2 linked regions of the Homo sapiens genome follow. The protein of the gene in region 2 binds, or shares a complex with, the protein of the main gene of each other region. Links are inferred from orthologs where the notes say so. Each region holds a gene or a part of one and is shown on either strand. Other genes may lie near its edges. The genes, in order: MFSD1 and GLMP.

Region 1 (7,525 bases), on a different chromosome or scaffold from region 2:
GTTATAGTCAGACAGAAGTGGTCCCTGTAGCAGGGTGTCTGATCCTGGAATCCAGGAAGCCCCTGAAATGGCATGTGAACTCAAGAAGTTCCCAGGGTTCCCAGGTGTGACCATTTTCCTGGGCCAGGGGCCATAGCTTTCATGAGATTCTCAAGGAAGTTAGTGAGACTTATAAATGGTTAAAAAAAACTTGCCCTTTACAGAAAGAAGAATGTAACTACTTTCCACTTTAGATTGTCATATTTTGATTTGTTAGTTGCTAAACTTAACTGTTTGGAAAAAAATAGTTTTATTTTCTTTTCATATAGGATATGCAAGTGAATACCACGAAATTCATGCTGCTGTATGCCTGGTATTCTTGGCCCAATGTAGTTTTGTGTTTCTTTGGTGGCTTTTTGATAGACCGAGTATTTGGAATACGGTAAGCTTGAAAAGAAACTATGGGTAAATCTTACCTGATTGTTAGAAAAATACAGAGCTAGATTAAGGTATTTCTAGAAAGAGCTGAATAAACTTCTGTATTAACTAATAATTTGCTTGAGTTTTTTAAAAAAATGATTTTTATATCTCTGGAGTTGGTTTTTGAAACGTGGTATTTCAGTTAAGGTCAGGACTAGTAAATGCTGATGGTATAAGGTAACTCAGTTATCCATAGGAAAATTATACTCACCCTTGGGATCAGGTAAACCAGGTTCTGAATCTTATCGTTGCCACTTTCTCATCTTCCTGGCTGTTCTGAGCTGTTTGCAGCTTCCTGAGCTTCAGTTCTCTCATTGCCAAAATATAGATGATTCCTACCTTGCAAGGTGGTTATGAGGATTAAGTGAGAGATGGATGTACAGTATTTGGCACATAGGTAGTATGTGCTTCCTCCAGCCCCGGTGAGATTTTCTATTTCTGCTTTTCTTGGGGTGTAAAACATTTTGTGACCACTTCTGTTAGAGGCTGAGCAGGGAATAACACTATAAGGTTTGCCACTGTTCATCCTTATTATTGTGTGTATGTTGTTAGTGGAACTGAAGAGGAATATAGACTGGGAATATTTTCAGAAGGCAAAGACCAAGATGATGAAAGGTCTTCAAACCATGTCTGGTGGATAAAGATTAAAGAAACTTTAAGAGTTTACACCTGGGGACTAACCTTTAAAATTTTTGAAGAGTTAAAATATGAAGGAAGAATTAAATTTATTTTTTTTGATCTCAAGAGAGAGAATTAGCTTGAAACTTCTGGGGAACAGATTCCTTTTAATATGAGGAGTTTGCTTGGTCAGATTGGCAGGAGATGACAAGAATTGTCTTGGAACCATAGTAAGTTTTCCAGTGCTAGAGAACATTGCTAGAGAACATTCAGTAGAACATGGCATGGTCATTTCACAAGGATCTTGAGAGAGATTTAAGTTTAAGAAGTATGGTTTACCCTGATGGCCTTTAAGGACTCTTCTAATACTGGCATTTTATTATTCTAGGGCAACATTAATCTGATGTCCAGATTGTAGGATGTTAGATTTGTATAACATGGTTGGTGTTTGTCCTTTTAAAAATTGGTTTTAGTTATCAAGAATTATAACCACTTAAAATTACTTACTGTAAAATTCCTTGGAATCAATCCTAAACTCTTAATAGAAATTTTATGAAGAATTTACATTTTTAAGTAGTTTTGACCCTGGGAACTTCTTGAAGATTAGTTGATTAGTTTTATTTAAGAGATGATAATGATTTAAACTAATATATGCCATTGCTAAAGCCTCCGGAATCCCCTTAGAAGTCTAGACTTCTGTAGATTCATATTTAGCCTGAGAGTTGCTGGCTTCAGAGGGAGATGAGCCCTTTATTTTTCTTTCTTTGGAGGGAATACAGAGGGAGGCAAAGAAAACCAAAGTGAATTATTACTAAAGGACTTTGTGATTACTAATACTAATGTAAACAGAAATTAAGATTTTTTTTTTCTTTTTCTTTTTCTCATTCTCATTCTTTCTTTCCCAAACAGATGGGGCACAATCATTTTTAGCTGCTTTGTTTGCATTGGACAGGTAAGGAAGGCCAAAACATTCATTGATTATTGACAGTGACTTCTAAATTCTTATCTAATTAATTCCATTGGCAAAGCTGTGTTTAATTAATGCCTAGCTTAATTAAGCAGAACCCATAAATGCCCATGTGATATAATCCATAGTCTATTTTAAGCCTTGAAATAAATGAACATTAATATTTTAACTTCACAGATTTATTAAGGAGAAATATTAAAACTATTGTAGAAGTTGAGATTTATCATGTTCCTTTTGCTTCTCTTTAATACTTTGAATTTACTTTTTCATTAATTTGACATGAACTTCTACATTATAGGTTGTTTTTGCCCTGGGTGGAATATTTAATGCTTTTTGGCTGATGGAATTTGGAAGATTTGTATTTGGGTAAGTTATGCATAATTTAATTTATCCTAATGTATTATTGTTTTAGTGTTCATCTATGAAAGATCTTTAAAAAACCTTGTCTCTTCTGGGGAATTACTTCAAATCTTTGAAACCTAGCTTCATATGCATAAGAGTATTTCTTAGTTGTCTTAGTTTTCCTTTAAAATAAGCAACAATTTTGAATGGTCCTAATCAACTCTGTGTGGGGTTTGAGTATTAAATAGTTCTCTGGAAATGATATTTTTCCCAGGCATTTTGCCTGTTCTGTTGTATTAAAGACTATGATTTGAACCACATTTAGAAAAGTATAGACCATCGATTTCTAGGTTGGTGACTGATGGACATTTCACTCTTTCTTAGCAAGTGATGCGAGGGTCCTTTCAACCCTGTCCAAGAGCTTTGCTTGAATGAGCACAATATGTGTAAGCTGACTATTCTGTGTGAATTCTTATAGACCAGTTGTTCTACCTGAATTGCATTGTCTGTTCAGTAAGCCTATTCTGAGACCAGCCTTGGGCTTGCTGCCCTGAGGGACCCAGATGACAGAACTGACTCAGTTTTAAAAGCATAACTTATTCAAGCTTTGCACAGGTGTCAGGAGCATGTAGACATAGGTGACATACCCCAAAAAGTAACCGTCAGTGAGAGAGAAGGAAGAAGAATGTATGTAAAGTTATGACAGGGATTCAGAAACAGAAATGTGGTCAGAAATGGCCTTACAGATGAAGTAGGCCTTGACAGAAGTACAGGATTTGGATTATTAGAAGAGAGGGAAAATATTTTTGGGCTAGGACAGAGTCACAAGAAATAAGACTATTTCTTATTTGTCTTAAGACTGTTTCTTAGTCCTTAATACTGAGGTGGCCTCGGTGTAAGGATATGGAGGAAGGAAGCTCCTAACTGAAGGCCCTTGGAGGAGAATCGTAAATATTGAAACTTACTGAAGGAAAATTAAAACCCAGGAAGTAGGAGAGTGTTGAATATGGAAAGTGAATGTGGGGATTGATTGATGGAGAGCTTTGCATATTGTTCTGAAAAATGTGAGTTTTTATGTTTTCACAAAGCATGGACCACTTTTCCCACATCTGCATTTTATATAATATCGATGGTAATGTAGTAACCAAGACGACTCCTTTTGTTGCCTATCATGGTTATTATTGCAGTATATCATGTGACTCCCACACTTAGCGGTATAAAACTACCATTTCATTATGCTCATGGACTTTATGGGCAGGAATTCGGACAAAGTGTAGCAAGGACAGCTTGTCTTTGCCTCTAGTGTCTGGGGCCTCAGCTGGTAAGATTCATGGAAGGGTGGGGGCTGGGATCATCTGAAAGCTTATTGACTCACATGTTTGGCACCTGGACTGGGATGCCTCAAAGACTGGGACTGCTGACTGGGGCACTTACATGTGGCCTCTCTTTGTGGTTTGCTGTCTCATAGCATGGGGGTAGTGGTTCAGGGCTCCAAGTGCGAGTGTCGGAGTGAAAAGGTGATGTCACCTTTTATAACTGAGCCTTGGGATCACACTGTCTCATTTCCACCATATTCTATTGGTTGAAGTAGTCACAAGCCCACCTGGATTCAAGGGGAGGGGACAGAGGCCCCATCTCTTGATAGGAGAAGTGCCAACATTTTAAACCTGCTGCATTGCTAACTGTAGTATTTCTTTAAAGTTGTGACTTCTGGTTTTTTTTTTTTTTTCTATTTTTAGGATTGGTGGCGAGTCCTTAGCAGTTGCCCAGAATACATATGCTGTGAGCTGGTTTAAAGGCAAAGAATTAAACCTGGTGTTTGGACTTCAACTTAGCATGGCTAGAATTGTAAGTATAATGAAAAGCCTGATGAAGCCAAATGGAAGCAAAAGATTAAATCTTATAGTTCTCTTAAAAATCACAGGATGAAATGTATTTGTGTATGGTAAATTAGATATTAACTTTTATGGATTTCTCTAGAACACAGCATGGCATTTACCTTGAGTAAAGCATTTCTAACCTTATTTCATCTAGTAAACAGTCTAAAATGGTTGTGTACATTCATTAGTTCAAAGAATCTGAGCATAGGGAGAGATCCTGTAAGTTTTGTTGTCTAATTTCTTACCCATTTTTGGCATCCCTGCTAGAACCTCTCCACATACGGCTGTCCAGGTTCAGTTTGCAATATTTCCAGGGATTGCAAGCTTGCTCTGTGATGAAGCAGCCCACCTACCTTAATGAACTTTATGAAGCGTAACCTCACATAGCGATGAAACCTCCATTTACAAGTAGCTTTTACTGATGGCTCTGACTTTTGCTCTCTGTAGATAAAGTTTACTTCCTCTGCTGTGCATCAGCACTTTGCTCCTTTGTAGACAGCTCTTAAGTTCTTGGTTATGTGTGCTCATTTCCTGTGGTTGCCTGAGCCATATGACATGGATCTCAGCTCCCTTACCATGGTGCTTATGCCTCTCTGAACTTATCTCAGTTAGCCAGTACTCCTGTTGGCATTTGGAACTTAGAAATGATCATGGTGTTTCAGGTTTGGTCTTAGAGGCTACCTAGCGGGAACAACATTATGGGTTTCGTTTGTTTGTTTGTTTGAGACAGGGTCTCACTTTGTTGCCCAAGCTGGAGTCCAGCAGTGCAATCTTGGCTCATGGTAGCCTCGACCTCCCAGGTTTAAGTGATTTTCCCACCTCAGCCTATAGAATAGTGAGACTACAGATGTGTACCACCATGTGCAGCTAATTTTGTGTATTTTTTATAGAGACAACACTATGTTTTTATTAATGCAAACTATAAGGTGTGTTGGCATTCCCAAATCCCATTAGGTTTTTTCTCTCAAGAATTCCCATGAATAGAGTATTAAAAAAAAATTTTTTTTGCCACTAAAAATCAAGCTTTCAAGCTTTGATTTTTAGTATATGTGCTGCCAAGGCGAGCAGAAGCTTTGACTTTTAATAAGTGTCGTGAAAATACAACATAGTCTCAGAGAATAAGAAACTCAATATAAAAATATTTTCATATAATACTTCATCATATGAGTATTTCTGTATTTTTATACATGTAAGTTCTTTCTGATTTTTCACTATTATAAATAGTGCTATAGTCTGACACTCTCGCTATGAAAGTTCTGTGCATCTCTTTTAGTCTCCATAGGCTAAGTGGCTAGGAATGGAATTATTAAGTCAGGGTATTTGTTAGGTCATCTGAGGACTATTGAGAGATATTTCCGCATTATCATTCCAGAGACGTTTACATCCCCACCTGTGGGATATGAGAGGATCCCTTTTATTGTAGCATTGATAGTACAGGCTATTATTACTTTTAGAAAATTACTTTATCACTTTGATAGGAAACAGCTAAATATTTGAATTTGTAATTCTTTGGTAAATAGTGTGGTTTTCCATATTTTCTAAATTTTGCCTATAAGGATATTCCCAAAGCCTTCATTACGAGTCTTGTGCAAGTCCAGATATGTCTGTGGCAGTTTGTGAATCTAGTTGTCTAACAACTTTTTAAAGAAGGAAGTGAAATCAGTTGAGCAAGACTCAACTGACTTCATTCTGGTTACCAGGACATCAGGTTCTTTTCTGTGTCATTTTAAGTTAGCTATAATTCATTAAGCTGCATTCTGAGGAGCCCTAAGTTTCTCTCTTTCTCTGTGTATGTATTTTCTTTTGATGACAGAGCTACTAGGATTGCTAACGGAAAATATGTAGAGTGTGGGGGAAAAACAACGGAGGCGCTCAGGATGACAGCACAGTTTTTGCTTAAGCAACTGTGAGCGCTGTAACCTAGCTCTTGATACTCTGCCCACCATCCCCTAAACCAGCTCCTGCTGTACTTTTCACATCCTTAGTTAAAGGCAACTGGGTTTTGGTCGTGTTAGGTTAGACATGCCTGCCATTCATCCAAGTGGAAATGTTGAGTAGGCAGTTGCATATACAGGTGTAGAATTCAGGGGAAAAATCTGGGCAAGTGATGTAAGTTCAGGAGCAAGGAAAATGCTACTTAAAATGGCAAAACTTGGTAAGATCACCAAGACTATGGATGTTGAAAGAAAAGAGATGATGTCAATTGACCAAGCCCTGGGGCACTTCCCACATTTGCAGGTTGAGAAGATCGAGATGGAACCAACAAAAGGGCTCCATTGGGGTGGGCAGAAAGGCAAGGGGGAAACTATAGGCTGTGGTATCCTGAAACCCAAGAAAAGAAATCAAGGTGGAGAGGATGTCAACTGCGTGAAATGCTATTGATAGGTCAGACACTGCTGAAGACTGAGAAGTGTACATGCCTTCAACAATGTTCTCACAGCAAATACAGTAGCAAATTTCACATGGCTGTTTCTTATAAAATACTAGCTAATGGCATTACTCAAATAAGCAACAAGGTAAACAGAGACCTACTGGAAGCTTTCTCTAATACCATCAAAAATATAAATTCCTCAAAGATAGGATGTTGCCTTAATAATCCTTTCATTCCAAAATACCTATTAAATAACTATTTAAAATCTCTTTTAACTATTTAAAATATCTATTAAATAAAATAACATGACCTGGCTTAGCAAGTACTCAATAAATGTTTGTTGAAATAATGAGTTTTCAAGTAACAATAGTGAAGGAAAATTGAAAGGGTGCTGGATCTCCAGTCCCGAGCTAAGACATGAATACTAAGAAAAATGAGAAGTGCACTGAAGGTATATGGTATATGCTAATAGTTCAAGTGTCTAAACACAATCAAACTCAAAAACTCAGGCAATAGAAAAATCATGGAGAGGTAAACCCAGGACCTCTGTGGTCATTCTGGAGGCTGCACAGGGAACAAGAGAAGCGCAAAAAAGACGGAATCTATGTCACCCCCAGCAGCCCTATAATGGAATAGCTCTTGGCCATTTTGATCATAAAATCATCTTACATGGACGCTAAATACATAAATCAGATAAAAGTTGAGCAGCGTTGGCTGAAACTGAGGTGGCTGCCTGCGATCTGGCTCATTTCACCTCCTCAAGATCTCCCTACCACTCTCATAATCCCTAAACTGCCTCTAAGAAGCCCCTGAGATTCCCTTCTAGAAACTCAGGGCAACTTATATGCAAATATATCTATGCTCTGACCACTTCCCACCATGCCCACT
Region 2 (6,892 bases):
GACTGGAGCCCTGTGAAAAAAAATAAATCTATTTTCTTGCCTTCCAGGGCAGCCAACCAGTCAGAATGCCTCTCATTTAGGCCTGCAAGTCCCATCCAAGGGAAATGTGTGGAGATGCAAGAAGGCAACACCAAGGGGACCTTATCAATAGCCCTGTCCCCTGCCCGCCTCCAAAGTCCCCCAACAAAGTATGAAGGAAGCCCCACCTGGGGGTCTCCAGGAAGTCGAGGCTGGCCTCTGAGGTTCCACAGAAAAGCAAGATGGGGGAGTGAAGGGGCCGGCTGGAACTTGATGCTCCAACCTCCAGAGTTTCGAGGCACAGCAAGACAGGTTCAGTAATGTCCTTCCCTCCAGAGAGCGGGCCTTAATTTATGGACTGGTACTCTGAGTACTTCTTGTGGTGCAGCAGCAGAACCAAGCCGCCCCCTAGCAGCATGAGCCCTGGGGCACCCAGGGCCACTGCCATGATGCCCAGGACTAGTGGGGACAAGCCGTCCACTGGAGGGAAGCCCACACCCAGGAGCATCGACCTAGAGCAAGCAGAGAGAGAGAGGTAAGCGGGCTTAGGAGGAAAGGCTGGGAGGCTCAGCCTTTGTCCACTTCAACTCCCCAAGTCCCCGGCCCAAACCCTGGCTCTCACCAGCTGAGGTAGTGTTGGTCCCAATAGCCAGGGCCTGTGGAAGCCCCGAACGTCAGATTGAAGGCACAGAAGTTATTCTGGGACCCAAAGAAGGCTCGGACAATGGGTGACTGGGGAAGAGAGTATGCTAAGGCAGGATGAAGAGGGGAAGCTTGGCAGGGCAGGGCTGATTCTCGGCCCCCCGGCTTCTGGGAGTAAGCCACTGGTCGCCACTGTGCAAAGCCTGATGGGAGGGAGCCCCACAGTAGCTGGTCCAACTGGGAAGAAAGGCAAACAAGGGAGGGTAAAGAGGACCAACCTGTGCCCGACCCTCTTTTCCTTGCCACTCCCAGCCTTATTCTGTGACTAGCAGCAGGAGTCCTGAGTCCTAGGCAGGGCCTCAATCCCTCCTCTGTAAAAATGGGGAGTTCGACTGGGTGAGGACTGAGTTGTTTTCCAAACCTCCAAGTCTGGACTCAGCCCTCCTCTTGGCCCCTAGCCCCCTTGCAGATCTCCATCTGCCAGAGTGTAAGTCATATTGCACTTTCTGTCTGTCTCCACTGAGGGCAGAGACTGGGTCAGATTCATTAGCACAGTGCCTAGCTCTTAAACGACCCAAAGAAAGTGTTGCTAAATGGCAAATGGTTGAATGAGTTTTAGGTCCCAATGGTGTCCCACCTACATTCCTCACCCATCTGCCTCTCTCCAGGAAGCCTGACCTGGAAGACGGCCGGTGCATATTCATCGTCGATGGAGTGCTGCTCCTGCATTGAGGGGCAGTCAGGGCCCTGGCCCAATGTGGCTACCTCCAGCCCAAACAGGGAACGGTTTCCCCGGGGAGAGGCTCCAATCAGGGCCACCTCTAGCTGACAGGTGTCTGCTGTGTGCAGGAGGCGAGGGGGTTGGGCTGGTCGGCTGGACCTGGAAAAGGCCTGGACCTAGGAAGGAAGAAGCATGGGAGGTGTGGGAAATAGCTGGATGCCTGTGCTTAAGGGCCACCTCCATCATTAAATCCCACCCTCACAAATCAGCCTTTTTGAGCTCTTTCCGATTTCTCACGCCTTACCCTGAAGGCCAGGCTGCCATTGGCAAAAGTCCTGGTAGGGTCGTTCATGGGGTGGCCTTGAAATGTGGCACTCAGGGTGGCAGGATCCAATGAATCAGTGATGTTGTTCCAAGAGAAATCGGCCAAGGAGTATGGAGGATATGGTCTTCCCAAAGGCTTTGCTGCCGTATCGGACACGTTGGTGCTGTCAAACTCAAGCAGCTGGAGGGTGGGGGTAGGGTGGAACTGGGCTTGCCTCAGTTTTTCTCCCGAGACCACACCTCCCACTCACCCCCTACCAAGGCTTTCATATCTGAGTCTATTTCACCCACCCCCAGTCTTTAGTTCCACCCTCTAATTGGGATGAACTCTCTCCTCTGCACTCTTCTCCTTGGTTCTCTCCCAACCTCCTCACCCTGGTAAAAACAAGGGCAGAAGAAAACTGAATGCTGTCCTTAGGGAGCACCATCAGGCCCCCATCGGGCTCAGGGGATAGCAGGAGGCTCCAGTTGACGCTCAGGGTGCTGTGGGGGGTGTTGGTGGCCACCATTACCACTGCCAGAGGCCCCAGGCTGCTCCACACATAGTGCAGTGTGGAATTGGTGCCCACTGCCCGTATATGAAGCAGGTTCTGCAGGGGGCCCAGCCAGTTAGGGATGACCTCCAGAGACACCTGGAACATGGAGTAGTGGAGGGTTGAGGGAACAGGACCAAGGAGAGACACAGGCAAAAGAGAAGCTTGAGGGGAGGGGGGCTTGGAAAGTGCTGGACAAAGGATGGGATTTTGGGGACTAGACAAGAGGAATGTGTGCGGGAGCTGAGGGAACCCTGGGGTAAGGGGCAGTGGGGACAGGATGAAAAGGGGTAGGGTAGAGGGTACAGCCAGGACTCCCCTGACCCTGGTGGGCGGGTCAGGGCACAGGGCTGCGAAGAAGAAAACATTCAACACTTGCCTGGACCTGGGTCACCCAGGGCTGAGTCGGGGTCCAGACATCACCCTCACATTTGCCCTACTCCACAATCCCGTCCCATGACCCATGACCATCTCCCACACCCTCCAGGTTGAAGAACCCTCCTCTTGGCAGCCACCCTCCACCCCTAGCCCCTGGATGCCCGGTTCCAGCCACCCTGCAAGGGTAGCGTTTCCTGAAACTTCTATCGCTGTAGCCCCAGGGCCCTCACCTGGCGGGTCTTCTCCCCCAGCAGGCCAAATGGGGCTGCAAACAGAAGTAGAGTCCAAAGGAGCAGGGGGCTGGGGGCACAGTGCCCCCAACCCCAGGTGCACTCCACAGAGCCGCGCATACGGCCGCAATTCAGCCGACGGAAGAGGTGCCAGAGGGTCACATGACTCGCGTTCAGCTGATCCCTTTCAAGGGCGGAGCCGCCAAACTATTTGCTTTTTAAAAAAATTTCCTTTCGTCAGCACCATTTAATGTATTAAAGAACAGCTTTGTATTCTATCTTAAAACAGGAAACGTCAGTCTCTTACAAGTAATACAATTTAATATGGTCACAAGATTTTAAGTGAAAAAAAAAACATTCATGCTACAAGTTTTCAGTTTTCCTTGGACAATGCCAAAAACACAGTATTCAAACGGCATGTTTTAAGAGGAACGTGAAATCTCATTTTGACACAAAGACAGGTTAAAGAAAATAAACCCAACAGGGAACTACTCCAGTACATTGCCTTAAGTTCCCAACCCTGTCCCATTGTGGAACTCATACACCTTCTTTCTACTCCAGCACATGAAACTCTGTGGTTCTTCTTCCCTGTGGAACAATGTGGTTCTTCTTCCCTGCCTAACATTTCAACAAAAATTGTAAATATTTAGAGATGTGTCACTAAATGACAACAACATACTTCCAAAAAAGCCAACTTATTTGTTAAATGTTGAAAGAAAAGGCCGGGCACGGTGGCTCACACCTGTAATCCCAGCACTTTGGGAGGCTGAGGCAGGTGGATCACAAGGTCAGGAGTTCAAGACCAGCCTGGCCAAGATGGTGAAAGCCCGTCTCTACTAAAAATACAAAAAATTCACTGGGCACGGTGGCAGGGCCCTGTAATCCCGGTGGCAGGCGCCTGTAACCCCAGCTACTCGGGAGGCTGAGGCAGGAGAATCACTTGAATCCGGGTAGTAGAGGTTGCAGTGAGCCAAGATTGTGCCACTGCACTCCAGCCTGGGCGACAAGAGCGAGACTCCGTCTCAAAAAAAAAAAAAAAAAAAAAAAAAAAAAAATATATATATATATATATATATATATATAGAGAGAGAGAGAGAGAGAGAGAGAGAGAGAGAGAAAGAAGGGGCTAGGCCGGGCACAGTGGCTTACGCCTGTAATCCCAACACTCTGAGAGGCCTTGGTGAGTGGATCACTTAAGGTCAGGAGTTAGAGACCAGCCTGACCAACATGGTGAAACCCCGTCTCTACTAAAAATACAAAAATTAGCCAGGTATGGTGGCAGGCGCCTGTAATCCTAGCTATTTGGGAGGCTGAGGCAGGAGAATCGCTTGAACCTAAGAGGCAGAGGTTGCAGTGAGCCGAGATTGCGACATTGCACTCCAGCCTGAGCAACAAGGGGCAAAACTCTATCTCAAAAAAAAAGAAAGAAAGAACGGGCTAAAATTTGGTGAAATTTAAAAGGGTTGTAGAAAACTTTGGAGTGTTTGTTTTCTTCACTTCACTCTGATTTTATTTTATTTATTTATTTTGAGACAGCATCCTGCTCTGTCACCAAGGCTGGAGTGCAGTGGCACAATCATGGCTCACTGCAGCCTCAAACTCTCGAGCTCAAGTGATCCTCCTGCCTTAGCCTCCCAAGTAGCTGGGACTTCATGCACATGCCACCATGCCTGGCTAATTTAAAAAAATTTTTTTTTGTAGCGACAGGGTCACACTATGTTGCCCAGGCTGGTCTTGAACTCCTGTGCTCAACTGATCCTCTCACATGGGCCTCCCAAAGTACTGGGATTATAGGGGTGAGCCACCACACTAGCCATCACTCTGATTTTAGAACACAGGGCTTGTGCACAAAGGTTAGGATAAGGAACTAAAGATGCCAAAAAATACCCCAAACATTAATTGCAAAAGAAAGACTAATGTTTATGAAGAGCTTATAACATGGAAAAATATTTGTTATAAAATTAAATGAAAAAGTAGGATACAAAACTATATAAACAGTAAGATCTCAACTATGTAAAAAAGGATAAAGGAAATAGCTCAAAATGCTAATAGCGGTTGTATTTAAGTAGTGTATCTATAGTGATTTTTTTTTTCCTTTTTCCTTTTCTGTCTCTTCCAAATTTTTCTCTACTGGGGGGATTTTTATTGTTGTTGTTGTTGTTTTTTGTTGTTGTTGTTTGTTGTTGTTTTGAGACGGAGTCTCACCTGTCGCCCAGGCTGGAATGCAATGGCGAGATCTCGACCCACTGCAACCTCTGCCTCCCGGGTTCAAGTGATTCTCCTGCCTCAGCTTCCCGAGTAGCTGGGATTACAGGCACACGCCACCATGCCCAGCTAATTTTTTTTTTTAAATGGAGTCTCGCTCTGTCACCCAGGCTGGAGTGCAGTGGTGTGATCATGGCTCACTGCGACCTCCACCTCCCGGGTGGAAGCGATTCTCCCACCTCAGCCTCCCACGTATCTGGGACTACAGGTGTGCGCCACCATGCCTGGCTAATTTTTATATTTTTAGTAGGGACAGGGTTTCACCATGTTGCCCAGACTGCTATTGAACTCCTGAACACACACACACAAAATTAGCTGGGCATGGCGGCGCCTGTAATCCCAGCTACTCGGGAGGCTGAAGCAGGAGAATCGCTTGAACCTGGGAGGTGGAGGTTGCAGTGAGCCAAGATTGCACCATTGCACTCCAGCCTGGGCAACAAGAGCGAAACTCTGTCTCAAAAAAAAAAAAAATTCTTCAGTCTCTTCTTCCATCCATTAATTTTCTTTTCTCTCTCTCTCTTTTTATTTATTTATTTTTGAGATGGAGTCTTGATCTGTCGCCCAGGCTGGAGTACAGTGGTGCAATCTCAGCTCACTGCAACCTCCACCTCCCGGGTTCAAGCAATTCTCCTGCTTCAGCCTGCTGAGTAGCTGGGATTACAGACATGTGCCACCACGCCCAGCTAATTTTTGTATTTTTTAAGTGGAGACGGGTTTCACTATGTTGGCCAGGCTGGTCTCGAACTCCCGACCTCAAGTGATCTGCCTGCTGCGGCCTCCCAAAGTGCTGGGATTACAGGCGTCAGCCACCGTGCCCAGCCATCCACAGATATTCACTGTGCTCCTGCGTCAGCCGCTCCAGGTCTTTCAATCACATTTGGATGATCTTCCAGATCGTCATAGAGTGATCTGACGATGTCCAGTCTCCTGTAATTCTTGGGCTTGACTAGGCTTCCGACAACCTGGAGGCATTGCTCTTTCAGGGTATACACTGCAGTGTGATGTTGGCAAAAACAGGCTGTCCATTAACATTGGAAGATGGCACAAACAATTCAGTTTGGTTAACCAGAAGCTTATCATGTGTCCTTGCATCTCTGAAGAGCCAAGGGTGGCTTCGGAAGTTGTGGATGCGGAAGTCCCTGCCGGGCAGCAGCGTCAGGTAGGGCAGCAGCTTGCCATAGTAGTTGAGCCACACAGGCAGCACGATTCGTGGGCTGTGATTGCAGATGATGATCCGGGAGAGCTCGCGTGAGTTCACAGAGCGCAGCACAGGCCATGCTGCTCTGGCTGCCATCTCCTCCTCGGCGCCCAACTCTTCCTGGCAGTACTCTTCTGGGCCTGCCTCCTGGGTGCCCGCCTGGGCCTCTAAACCCACCCCGTTCCCCGCTCTCCAGGGCATTACCTCCGAAGCCTTGACAACTTGGGCCTGCCCATACCAGTTCTTAAAGAGACTACTTCCGTTCACCCGGATTTCGGCAAGAGTTACAATGGAATCAGAAAGGCTGGGAGTATATAACCCCCTACCTGGGTGGTAAGCAAGACATCCTAGATCAGACAGACTTACTCCCAGCCTCTCTTACCTAGCCCGTCCCACTGAAGAGCTACCTATAGTGGGAGAGATCCAAATGGGACCCCAATAATACAACTGTGATAGGAAGATCCAGAGAGGAATTTGAGGGTATTCCATGAGATAGCACACCTGAGGGTTCTTTATGTCAATCTAATATTTATTGGACACTTCATGGCCAGGCGCAGTGGTTCACACCTGTAATCCCAACACT

Evidence for each region.
Region 1: the proteins of GLMP (region 2) and MFSD1 are in contact, whole or in part, in a cryo-EM structure (PDB 8R8Q), measured with the Mus musculus proteins. The link is inferred for Homo sapiens from one-to-one orthologs. Residues at the interface, in NP_064387.1 of Mus musculus: Glu250, Asn252, Ser253, Ile254, Asp255, Asp256, Glu257, Pro260, Ala261, Phe263, Gln264, Arg292, Phe364, Leu367, Val368, Ile371, Met372, Ala375, Ala378, Leu381, Met382, Gly385, Phe389; in NP_080089.1 of Mus musculus: Val288, Glu292, Lys293, Arg295, Phe349, Phe351, Leu411, Asp412, Lys414, Gly415, Tyr416, Leu417, Leu418, Val421, Ile424, Ser428, Leu432, Val435, Leu439.

Annotation. Positions count from the first base shown.
Region 1 is NC_000003.12:158,805,054-158,812,578, forward strand, and holds part of MFSD1 (lysosomal dipeptide transporter MFSD1), read left to right. Parts: intron 1-308; coding exon 309-421; intron 422-1,986; coding exon 1,987-2,029; intron 2,030-2,342; coding exon 2,343-2,410; intron 2,411-4,125; coding exon 4,126-4,234; intron 4,235-7,525. UniProt on the Homo sapiens protein: Lysosomal dipeptide uniporter that selectively exports lysine, arginine or histidine-containing dipeptides with a net positive charge from the lysosome lumen into the cytosol.
Region 2 is NC_000001.11:156,292,680-156,299,571, forward strand, and holds GLMP (glycosylated lysosomal membrane protein isoform 1 precursor), read right to left. Parts: upstream 3,001-6,892; 5' UTR 2,967-3,000; coding exon 2,847-2,966; exon of another isoform or gene 2,618-2,846; intron 2,338-2,617; coding exon 2,080-2,337; exon of another isoform or gene 1,997-2,079; intron 1,887-1,996; coding exon 1,686-1,886; intron 1,558-1,685; coding exon 1,339-1,557; intron 1,032-1,338; exon of another isoform or gene 939-1,031; intron 898-938; coding exon 641-897; intron 531-640; coding exon 365-530; coding exon of another isoform or gene 333-364; 3' UTR 9-332; downstream 1-8. Other genes in the region: VHLL (von Hippel-Lindau-like protein), read right to left, coding at 6,091-6,510. UniProt on the Homo sapiens protein: Required to protect lysosomal transporter MFSD1 from lysosomal proteolysis and for MFSD1 lysosomal localization.